Linked DNA regions of Homo sapiens. The protein of the gene in region 3 purifies or fractionates together with the protein of the main gene of each other region. This does not show direct contact. Each region holds a gene or a part of one and is shown on either strand. Other genes may lie near its edges.

Region 1 (2,469 bases), on a different chromosome or scaffold from region 3:
GAAACCTTCCTCTTGAGGGTCATTTTCCTTTCTGTATTAATTATACCAGTGTTAAGTGACATAGATAAGAACTTTGCACACTTCAAATCAGAGCAGTGATTCTCTCTTCTCTCCCCTTTTCCTTCAGAGTGAATCATCCAGACTCCTCATGGATAGGTCGGGTGTTAAAGTTGTTTTGATTATGTACCTTTTGATAGATCCACATAAAAAGAAATGTGAAGTTTTCTTTTACTATCTTTTCATTTATCAAGCAGAGACCTTTGTTGGGAGGCGGTTTGGGAGAACACATTTCTAATTTGAATGAAATGAAATCTATTTTCAGTGAAAACTTGTTGACTTTGAGTTTTGCTGTGTTTGTGGCTAGAGTTTTGGGATATTTAGTACAGAGTGAATCTCACACCATATCATTGGGAAGCCTGAATAACCTTCATATTCTCCCATTTTTACAACTCTATCAGAACTGTACGGGTATAACGGAAATGTTTAGGAACCATTATGCTCGCTCTTCCCTGTTTGGGAGCAGACAAGAAGGAAGAGTAGCCTGGTGGCAGTGGCAACGATATAAGTACATAAGGAAAAGCAGATAAACTTCAGGACACTAAAAACCAATTATCTGCTCATTTTTACCCCTGTAGTCATTTCTGGGCATGCCTTAGTTTGCTTGGGTTGCTATAATGTAATGCCATAGACTGGCTGAAAGAACAGAAATGTATTTTCTCACAGTTATGGAGGCTGGAATTCTGAGATCAAAGTTGAAGCCACTTCATTTTCTGGTGAGGACACTCTTCCTGGTTTACAGATGGCCACCTTCTTGCTTGTTCTCACATGGCATTTCTTTGGTATGTGCCTGGTGGGGGAGAGAGAAAATAGGCTCTCATGTCTCTTCTTACAGCAACACTAATTGTATTGGATCAGGGTCCCACTCTTATGGAGACCCAGGAAAGCTGGTGGTATAACAACTTGGTTCAAGTCCAAATGCCTAAGAACCTGGGGAGGGGCATGGGGAATGCTGGTATAAGTCCCAGAGTCTGAATGCCCAGGAACAAGCAGGAGCTGTGATGTCCAAGGACAGGAGGGCAGGATCTTTGTAATGAATTTTTAATGTCAACCTTAGCACTCAGGGGATATGGCCTGGTCATCAGAACATCTGGAATCTAATCCTCTTTCTACTTCTCACCAGATGAGGGATCAAGACAGGTTATTTAGCATCCCTGCACTTGCGGTCCTGGGGATCTTATTTATATTCATTTAAAAAATAAATTACAAACAAACAGCCAGGCGCAGTGGCTCATGCCTATAATTCCATCACTTTGGGAGGCCGAGGTGGGTAGATCACCTGAGGTCAGGAGTTCTAGACCAGCCTGGCCAACATGGTGAAACCCCGTCTCTACTAAAAATACAAAAAATTAGCCAGGTGTGGTATTGTGTGCCTGTAATCCCAGCTACACAGGAGGCTGAGGCAGGAGAATTGCTTAAACCCGGGATGCAGAGGCTGCAGTGAGCCGAGATCGTGCCATTGCACGCCCGCCTGGGCTACAAGAGCAAAGCTCCGTCTCAAAAAAAAAAAAAAATTACAAACAAACAGAACTCCATTGTACAAAAAAACCTGTGATCCTCAAGTTAAGATCAGTCCTAGAATAAAAACACTAAGAATGGCTGAGAAAACAGACCTCCACCCTCTCAGCTCTCCATTACTGAGCAGCTGGGGAGCTGTCTCGCTCCCCGCATTCAGTGGCTCCTGTGGTCTGTATTTTTGTATCCTCCCCAAAATTCAGGTGGTGAAACCTTAACCCCCCAGGTAATGGTAATAGAAGCTGGGGCCTTTGGAAGGTGATTAGATCATGAGGGTAGTGCCTTTTAAAAGAGACTCAAGATAAGATAGAGACCCCCTCATTTCTTCTGCCATGGGAGAACACAGCAAGAAGTCACCATCCGTGAACCAGAAAGTGGGTTCTCACCAGATACTGAATCTGCCAGTGCCTTGAACCTAGACTTTCCAGCCAGAACTGTGAGAAATTTCTATTGTTTATAAGCCACCCAGTTGATATTTAGTTACAGCAGCCCAACCAAGACTGTGGTTATGAGGAAACAAACACATTATTGTGGCTAGACTAATGGAATTGGGTCCCTTACCTCCAAGTACACCCTCTGTCCTTTTCGGTAAAAATATCTTCGCCAGGCACGGTGTCTCATGCCTATGATCCCAACACTTTGGGAGGCCGAGGCTGGAGGGTTGCTTGAGCCCAGAAGTTTGAGACCAGCCTGGGCAACACTCTACAAAAAAAAAAATAAATAAATAAATAAATAAAATAAATCAGCCAGGTGTGCACCTGTGGTCCCAGCTGTTCAGGAGGCTGAGGTGGGAGGATCACTTGAGCCTGGGAGGTCGTGGCTATGATTGCTCCACTGCACTCCAGCCTGGGCAATAGAGTGAGACCCTATCAATCAATCACCACCCCCCCCCCCCCC
Region 2 (2,998 bases), on a different chromosome or scaffold from region 3:
GGTGTGTGTGTGAGAGGAAGGTGTGTGGGAGGAGGCAGATTTGTGGGGGGAGGCGGGCGTGTGGGGGAGGCGGGTGTGAGGCGGGTGTCCGGGAGGCAGGTGTTGGAGCGCGGGCAGGTGTTGGAGCGCGGGCAGGTGTTGGAGCGCGGGCAGGTGTTGGAGCGCGGGCAGGTGTTGGAGCGCGGGCAGGCTCGAGCACAGGCCCCTTCACCGCAGGCACTGAGGGGACTAACAGGGCAGCCCCGGGCCCCTTCTCAAAGGCGGCTCTAGCGGGGTTCCAGGGCTGGGGGCGCTGAGACCCAGAGGGAGAACAGGGCCTGGGGGCGACGGGCTCCTCCGGGTCTCAGAAGGAGGGGCAGGGCCCGCCAGGTGGAAGGAAGGCGCCTGGGAGACCTCCTGAAAGTGGGGACCCCCGGAGCGCGTGGGGGTGGTGGCTGCCAGGTGGGGGCGGAGGGGGTGCGGGGCGCGCCCCGGCCCTGACCCCCCTGCCGCCCCTCCCGCTCAGCCGAGAAGGTGAGCTCCCTGGGGAAGGACTGGCACAAGTTCTGCCTCAAGTGCGAGCGCTGCAGCAAGACGCTGACGCCCGGGGGCCACGCCGAGGTGAGCCCCACTGCGCGGCGCGGGCGGGGGCGGGGGTCGCGACTCCCGCCACCCTCAGGCAGGGTCCTGACCCGCGCCCCTCTGCGCAGCATGACGGGAAGCCGTTCTGCCACAAGCCGTGCTACGCCACCCTGTTCGGACCCAAAGGTGAGCTCCGGCTGCCCTCGGCCTGCCCTGGGACCTGCTGGGAGGGGCGTGGCGCTGGCGCTGGGGAGGGCTGGGGGTCCCGGCCGCCGTGGATCCCCGCCCAGAGTCCCTGCCACCCTGGAAAGCCTAGTGCCCCCCAGTCCCCAGCGGGCCGTTTTCTGAGATGCCCGGTGGCCGCGGCCCCCACCCCACGTACCCCCGCCCCACGTACCCCCACCCGCAGGCGTGAACATCGGGGGCGCGGGCTCCTACATCTACGAGAAGCCCCTGGCGGAGGGGCCGCAGGTCACCGGCCCCATCGAGGTCCCCGCGGCCCGAGCAGAGGAGCGGAAGGCGAGCGGCCCCCCGAAGGGGCCCAGCAGAGGTGGGCTGGGCGCGGGCTGGGGCTGGGGGTTGTGGGCACGCGCGGGCTGGGGCTGGGGGTTGTGGGCACCCCCGGCCCCGCCCCGCCCTGACTCGTGCGCCCCACAGCCTCCAGTGTCACCACTTTCACCGGGGAGCCCAACACGTGCCCGCGCTGCAGCAAGAAGGTGTACTTCGGTGAGTGCGCGCCCGGGCCCCGGACCCCCGCCCCCGCCCCCGCCCCGGGGCTCGGCCTCACTCCTCCCCCTTTCCAGCTGAGAAGGTGACGTCTCTGGGCAAGGATTGGCACCGGCCCTGCCTGCGCTGCGAGCGCTGCGGGAAGACACTGACCCCCGGCGGGCACGCGGAGGTGAGGGGAGTGCAACGGGGCTTGGGGGCCGGGCAGGGGCGCGGGGTCGGGGGGATGAGGGTGAGAGGCGCGCCTAGAGGGGATGGGGGGTGGTGCTTCTGGGAGCTGCGCTGCCCTCTCCCCCACGGCGAGCCGGCCTGCACGTTCTGGAAGCCTCCAGGTGATGGGTCGGGGGAGTCTGTGGACTCCTCCCTCAGCACCCACCTTCTGCCCCAGCACGACGGCCAGCCCTACTGCCACAAGCCCTGCTATGGAATCCTCTTCGGACCCAAGGGTGAGTGTAGCCAGGGTGGTCCACGATGTCTTCCCTGCCCTCCCCTTCCCTCCACTGTTCCCCCGACCCACCCCAGCGGCCTCCCTCCACAGGAGTGAACACCGGTGCGGTGGGCAGCTACATCTATGACCGGGACCCCGAAGGCAAGGTCCAGCCCTAGGCTACAGCGGCTCTCATGATGTGGGCTCACCTGCGCCCCAGACCCTGCAGGGGCCCCCCTGCTTGGCTCTGCTGGGAGAGTGCTCAGCCGCCCAGTCCTGCCTGCAAGCCCAGGGCGAGTATTGGAGGAGGGGCAGCCACGGGCAGAGCACCATGCCCATCCCCGAGTCTCTGGTGTGTCTGCCCCCTCTGGCATCCTCTGGGCGTCCCATGATCCCTTCTGTGTCTGCGTGTCCGAATCCCCGTGTGACCCTGTCCCAGCATTTTCCCGCCGACCCTGCGTGTCCCCGTGGCGCTGTCCGCTCTCCCTCTCCTGCTGCCCACCCACCTGCCAGTGTTATTTATGCTCCCTTCGTGGGTGATGGCCACGCCCTCACCATGTCCCTGGCAGAGGGCTTCCCTCCGGGATCCCCTGCCTGGTGCCCACACTGCCTCGCAAGCGCTCGCCACCCTCACGTGGCTCACCTGCTGTTGAGCCTTGTGCTGTCAATAAACGGTTTGAGGATTGCAGGATTGTCTCTGCTTGTGGGATGGATGCAAATCCCAGACCAGGGTCCCTTTCTCCGGTCCATGCGTGCTCCCAGCCAACACCCCTGGGCCTGGCTGCTAGTGGGGGTGGGCTCTTCTCCTGGGGGTCATAGTGGGAGGTGGGGCCCTGGGATGTTTCTGAGCAGGAGGGAGGGATGGGGGCGGGGAGCGTGGTCTCCGGTTTGGGTGGTGGTGCCCACCCAGATGGGGAGGCAGTAAGAACGCCAGGCTGTGGGGAGGTAAGGAAGGTGGGAGGCATTCCGGGGCCAGGGTCCTGGCCAGGGTCAGGTGAGGGTGGGGTCCATGGAGGACAGAGCCTTGGAGAAAAGTTGAACCTAGAACCCTGAAAATACCAACAGCAGGCCTGAGAACCCGGAGCTGCCTGGGTGTGTGGACCCTGGCAAGCGCAGGAGGGGTCCGCCCTGAGAGCAGAGTGTGGCTGAGGAGGGAAGGGGGCCGGGGACCAGAGGAGGGGTCCTGGGCAGAGAATGGGGAAGCCGGCGAAGGTCGGGTGGGACAGAGGTCTCTGGCAGCCCCAGACTGGACTGGGATGCGCAGGAGGGTTTGGGGGCTCTGGT
Region 3 (3,656 bases):
CTCAGATGACTTTCGGCAGGCTCCACAGAATCATCCCGAAGGTGAGTATCTCTCAAATCTAAAGGACCAGAGAACCTTTTTCCTTTCATGGATGTGAACACTGATAAGACAGGGAGAATATCAAAAACGCCCTCATTGCCTCTTTCTCCCCATGTCTATCACAACAACTTATGTAGCACCGACGGCTTGATAATACTAACAGTTGTGATCCTTAATACTTCTTTTGTTTTCATAGTGATGCCAGATACTATTTTAAGCAGTTCACATGGATTAATTAATTTAATCCATAAGAAGACCTCTATGACATTGTTTCTTTTATTATCTCCAAATAGTAATGAGTCACACACTTCGGTTGTCATCCATATAAAAGCCATGTGACTTGGCACAAATCTTCTAAGTTATCGGAGCTCCAGATTCCTAGTCCATGAAATGGAAGTAAAGAATAATAGTTCATGTTATAGACCATAGTTATCAGCAACATAATAATAAAATGAGGCTATCGGGGTACAGAGATGTTAAAGAATTTTCCTGGGGCACAGTGTCAGTGGTAGTCTAATCCAGAGCTCCAAGCCATTTAAAGCTCATTCACGTTTGTATTTGTTTATGAAGTTCAGATGTTGCTCACTAGGGCTTTACCCCATAGGGCCTACTGGTGCTTCCATTGAGACACCCACTCTCGCAACAGGAAGGACCAGCTGGCCTCTGCTCTGTTACCGGGGCCACTCCCATGGCTTAGGAATCGCTTTGACTGTTGGCCCCTCCTTGAGCTCCTTGAGGGCTTTGTCTGCACCTGGGGCATCCGAGAAGCCCCAGTCCCAGCCCAGGGGATCCCTCAGAGGCCCCTGAATGAGTGATTCTGGAAGTGCAGATTCAGCTCTGGTTTAGAAGGTAAAGGGATCTGGGAGTTGGGTTGCCAGTATGGAGAACGAATTCAAAGAAGGATCCAGAAAGGTATTCAATGTTATTATTATTACATTTGAACAATGTTTACAAGCTCAGAGAGGATTTTCCCTTAGCTTATTTTACATGTATTATTCACTATTTCATAAGTGAGGAAGCTGAGTAAAAAGTAGCTTAAGGGCCGGGCGCGGGGGCTCACGACTGTAATCCCAGCAATTTAGGAGGTTGAGGCGGGCAGATTACGAGGTCAAGAGATCGAGACCGTCCTGGCCAACATGGTGAAACCTCATCTCTACTAAAAATACAAAACTTAGCAGGGCGTGGTAGCGCCTGCCTGTAATCCTAGCTACTCAGGAGGCTGAGACAGGGGAATCGCTTGAACCGGGGAGGAGGAGATTGCAGTGAGCCAAGATCGCACCACTGCACTCTAGCCTGGTGACAGAGCGAGACTTTGTCAAAAAAAAAAAAAGAGTAGCTTAATATTGTTGGTCAGTGACACATCCCAGTGTAACCAGAATTGGTATGGGTACCACCTCACTGAATTCCACATTCAATGTTGGTGCCTCGGTAGGGTGGTATGCCAGATCTGGTACTGCTTTCTTTGCTGCCTAGATTAATTTCAGCAAACCATTTCTTTACCTCTCCCTTCCCTGTATTCATCTCCCCACACCATCTTTCCCAGCAGTGTTTTGTCCCCTCCCTATGTTTTTACATTTACTCTCCCAGCAGCTGTCTACGAGCTTATATGGGATCCCTTGTATTTTATAGAAGCTCTTCCTTTTGTAGACCTTGTGAATTCTTAGAATGCTATTTTTCTCCAAATATTCTGTGTACTACACTCTCAACTACATGGAGATTTCTGCTGTTTCCACGAATGTCAGTCTTAAAAGAGTGTGAAGATAAGCATTCTAGCCCTGGAAACTGCATTCATTTAGGCCATTCCTTTTGCTTCTAATCTCCCAGGTTTGTCTCATTTAGGCAAGTGTAACTCTCCCCGCGTTGTTGAGAACATTCATTAAGGTAATGCATGTGAAGACGCTTTGTAAGCTCTAAAGCACTATAGAAATGTCACTGATACTGTTTATCTGTAACCTTCACATTATAAAGATCATGCCCAAGAAGCCAGCAGAGGACGAAAATGATTCGAAGGGAGTGTCAGAAGCATCTGGCCCACAAAACGATGGGAAACAACTGCACCCCCCAGGAAAAGCAAATATTTCTGAGAAGATTAATAAGAGATCTGGTAAGAGGAAATGATTTGGGAACAACTTCTCTGGCTTTTCTGGCTATGTTCAGGTGTGTGGACTGGGTGTGTGGCATGGATCCCAGACAAGCCTGGGTCCAGGCTGGGCTGAAGAGCTCGCCCAGCTCCAGATGAGATGTTAGACATGACTTCCAGAGATGCAGACTGGAGTTGTCATCCATATAAAAAACCACGTGACTTGGGACAAGTCTTCCAAATTTTCTCAGCTCCAGATTCCTAGTCCATAAGATGGAAATAAAGAATCATAGTTCGTAAATTGTTTGGAGGCATTAAATTAAATCCTGAAGGCCTGATGACATGAAAGGTGCTCAAGCGATTCTATCTGTGATAACCTGGGATCATATCTTACTCAGCTCAATGCCTGATACCCAATACAGGTGTACTTCAGAGATATTGCAGGTTGGGTTCCAGAGCACTGCAATAAAGTGAGTCACACACATTGTTTTTCGTTTGTTTCGCAGTGCATAAAAACATTATGTTTACACTATAGTGTACTCTACTAAGTGTGCAATAGCATTATGTCTAAAAATGTACATACCTTAATTTTAAAATAATTTATTGTTAAAAAATGCTAACAATCTTCTGAGCCTTCAGTGAGTTACACTCTTCTTGTTGGTGGAGGGTCTTGCCTCGGTGTTGATGGCTGCTGGCTGATCAAGGTGGTGGTTGCTGAAGGGTGGAGTGGCTGTGGCAGTTTCTTAAAAGAACACAACAATGAAATTTGCCACATCGATTAGCTCTCCCTTTCATGAAAGATTTCTCTGTAGTATGTGATGCTATTCGATAGCATTTAGCCACTTTAGAACTTCTTTCAAAGTTGGAGTCAATCATCTCTAGCTATGAAAGTTTTAGATGGCATCTACTTCCGATAAAAGGCTGTTTAATCTATATTGAAAATCTGTTGTTTAGTGTAGCCACGTTCATCAGTGATCTTAGCTAGATCTTCTGGATAACTTGCTGCAGCTTCTCCATCAGTGTTTGCTGCTACACCTTGCACTTTTATGTTATGGGGACAGCTTCTTTCCTTAAACCTCACAAACCAACCTCTGCTAGTTTCACACGTTTCTTCACCTCTCTCAGCTTTCATGGGCTTGAAGAGAGTTCAGGTCTTGCTCTGAATTAGACTTTGGCTTAAGGGAATGTTGTGGCTGGTTTCATGTTCTATCCTGATCACTCAAACTTTCTCTATTGCAGCAGTAAGGCTGTTTTGCTTTCTTATTCTTGTGTTCACTGGGTATTAGTATTATTATTTCCTTCAAGAACTTTTCCTTTGCATTATATACTATTCTTTCTTTCAAGAACTTCTCCTTTGCATGCACAGCTTGGCTATTTGGTGCAAGAGGCCTAGCTTTCATCCTGTCTCGGCTTTCAGCATGCCTTCCTCACTAAGCTTAGCCATTTCTAGATTCTGATTTAATGTGAGAGAATGCGACTCTTCCTTTCATTTGAACAGTTAGTGGCCATTTTAGGATTGTTAACTGTCCTAATTTCA

The links.
Region 1: the proteins of SSX1 (region 3) and ACO1 purify together in Homo sapiens (affinity purification with mass spectrometry; one large-scale study listed by BioGRID and IntAct). This does not show direct contact.
Region 2: the proteins of SSX1 (region 3) and CRIP2 purify together in Homo sapiens (affinity purification with mass spectrometry; one large-scale study listed by BioGRID and IntAct). This does not show direct contact.

The regions. Positions count from the first base shown.
Region 1 is NC_000009.12:32,450,509-32,452,977, forward strand, and holds part of ACO1 (cytoplasmic aconitate hydratase), read left to right. Parts: 3' UTR 1-2,469. UniProt on the Homo sapiens protein: Bifunctional iron sensor that switches between 2 activities depending on iron availability. Iron deprivation, promotes its mRNA binding activity through which it regulates the expression of genes involved in iron uptake, sequestration and utilization.
Region 2 is NC_000014.9:105,477,761-105,480,758, forward strand, and holds the end of CRIP2 (cysteine-rich protein 2), read left to right. Parts: intron 1-505; coding exon 506-600; intron 601-689; coding exon 690-747; intron 748-970; coding exon 971-1,111; intron 1,112-1,218; coding exon 1,219-1,287; intron 1,288-1,364; coding exon 1,365-1,459; intron 1,460-1,675; coding exon 1,676-1,733; intron 1,734-1,825; coding exon 1,826-1,893; 3' UTR 1,894-2,402; downstream 2,403-2,998.
Region 3 is NC_000023.11:48,261,775-48,265,430, forward strand, and holds part of SSX1 (protein SSX1), read left to right. Parts: coding exon 1-41; intron 42-2,007; coding exon 2,008-2,143; intron 2,144-3,656. UniProt on the Homo sapiens protein: Could act as a modulator of transcription. Plays a role in spermatogenesis.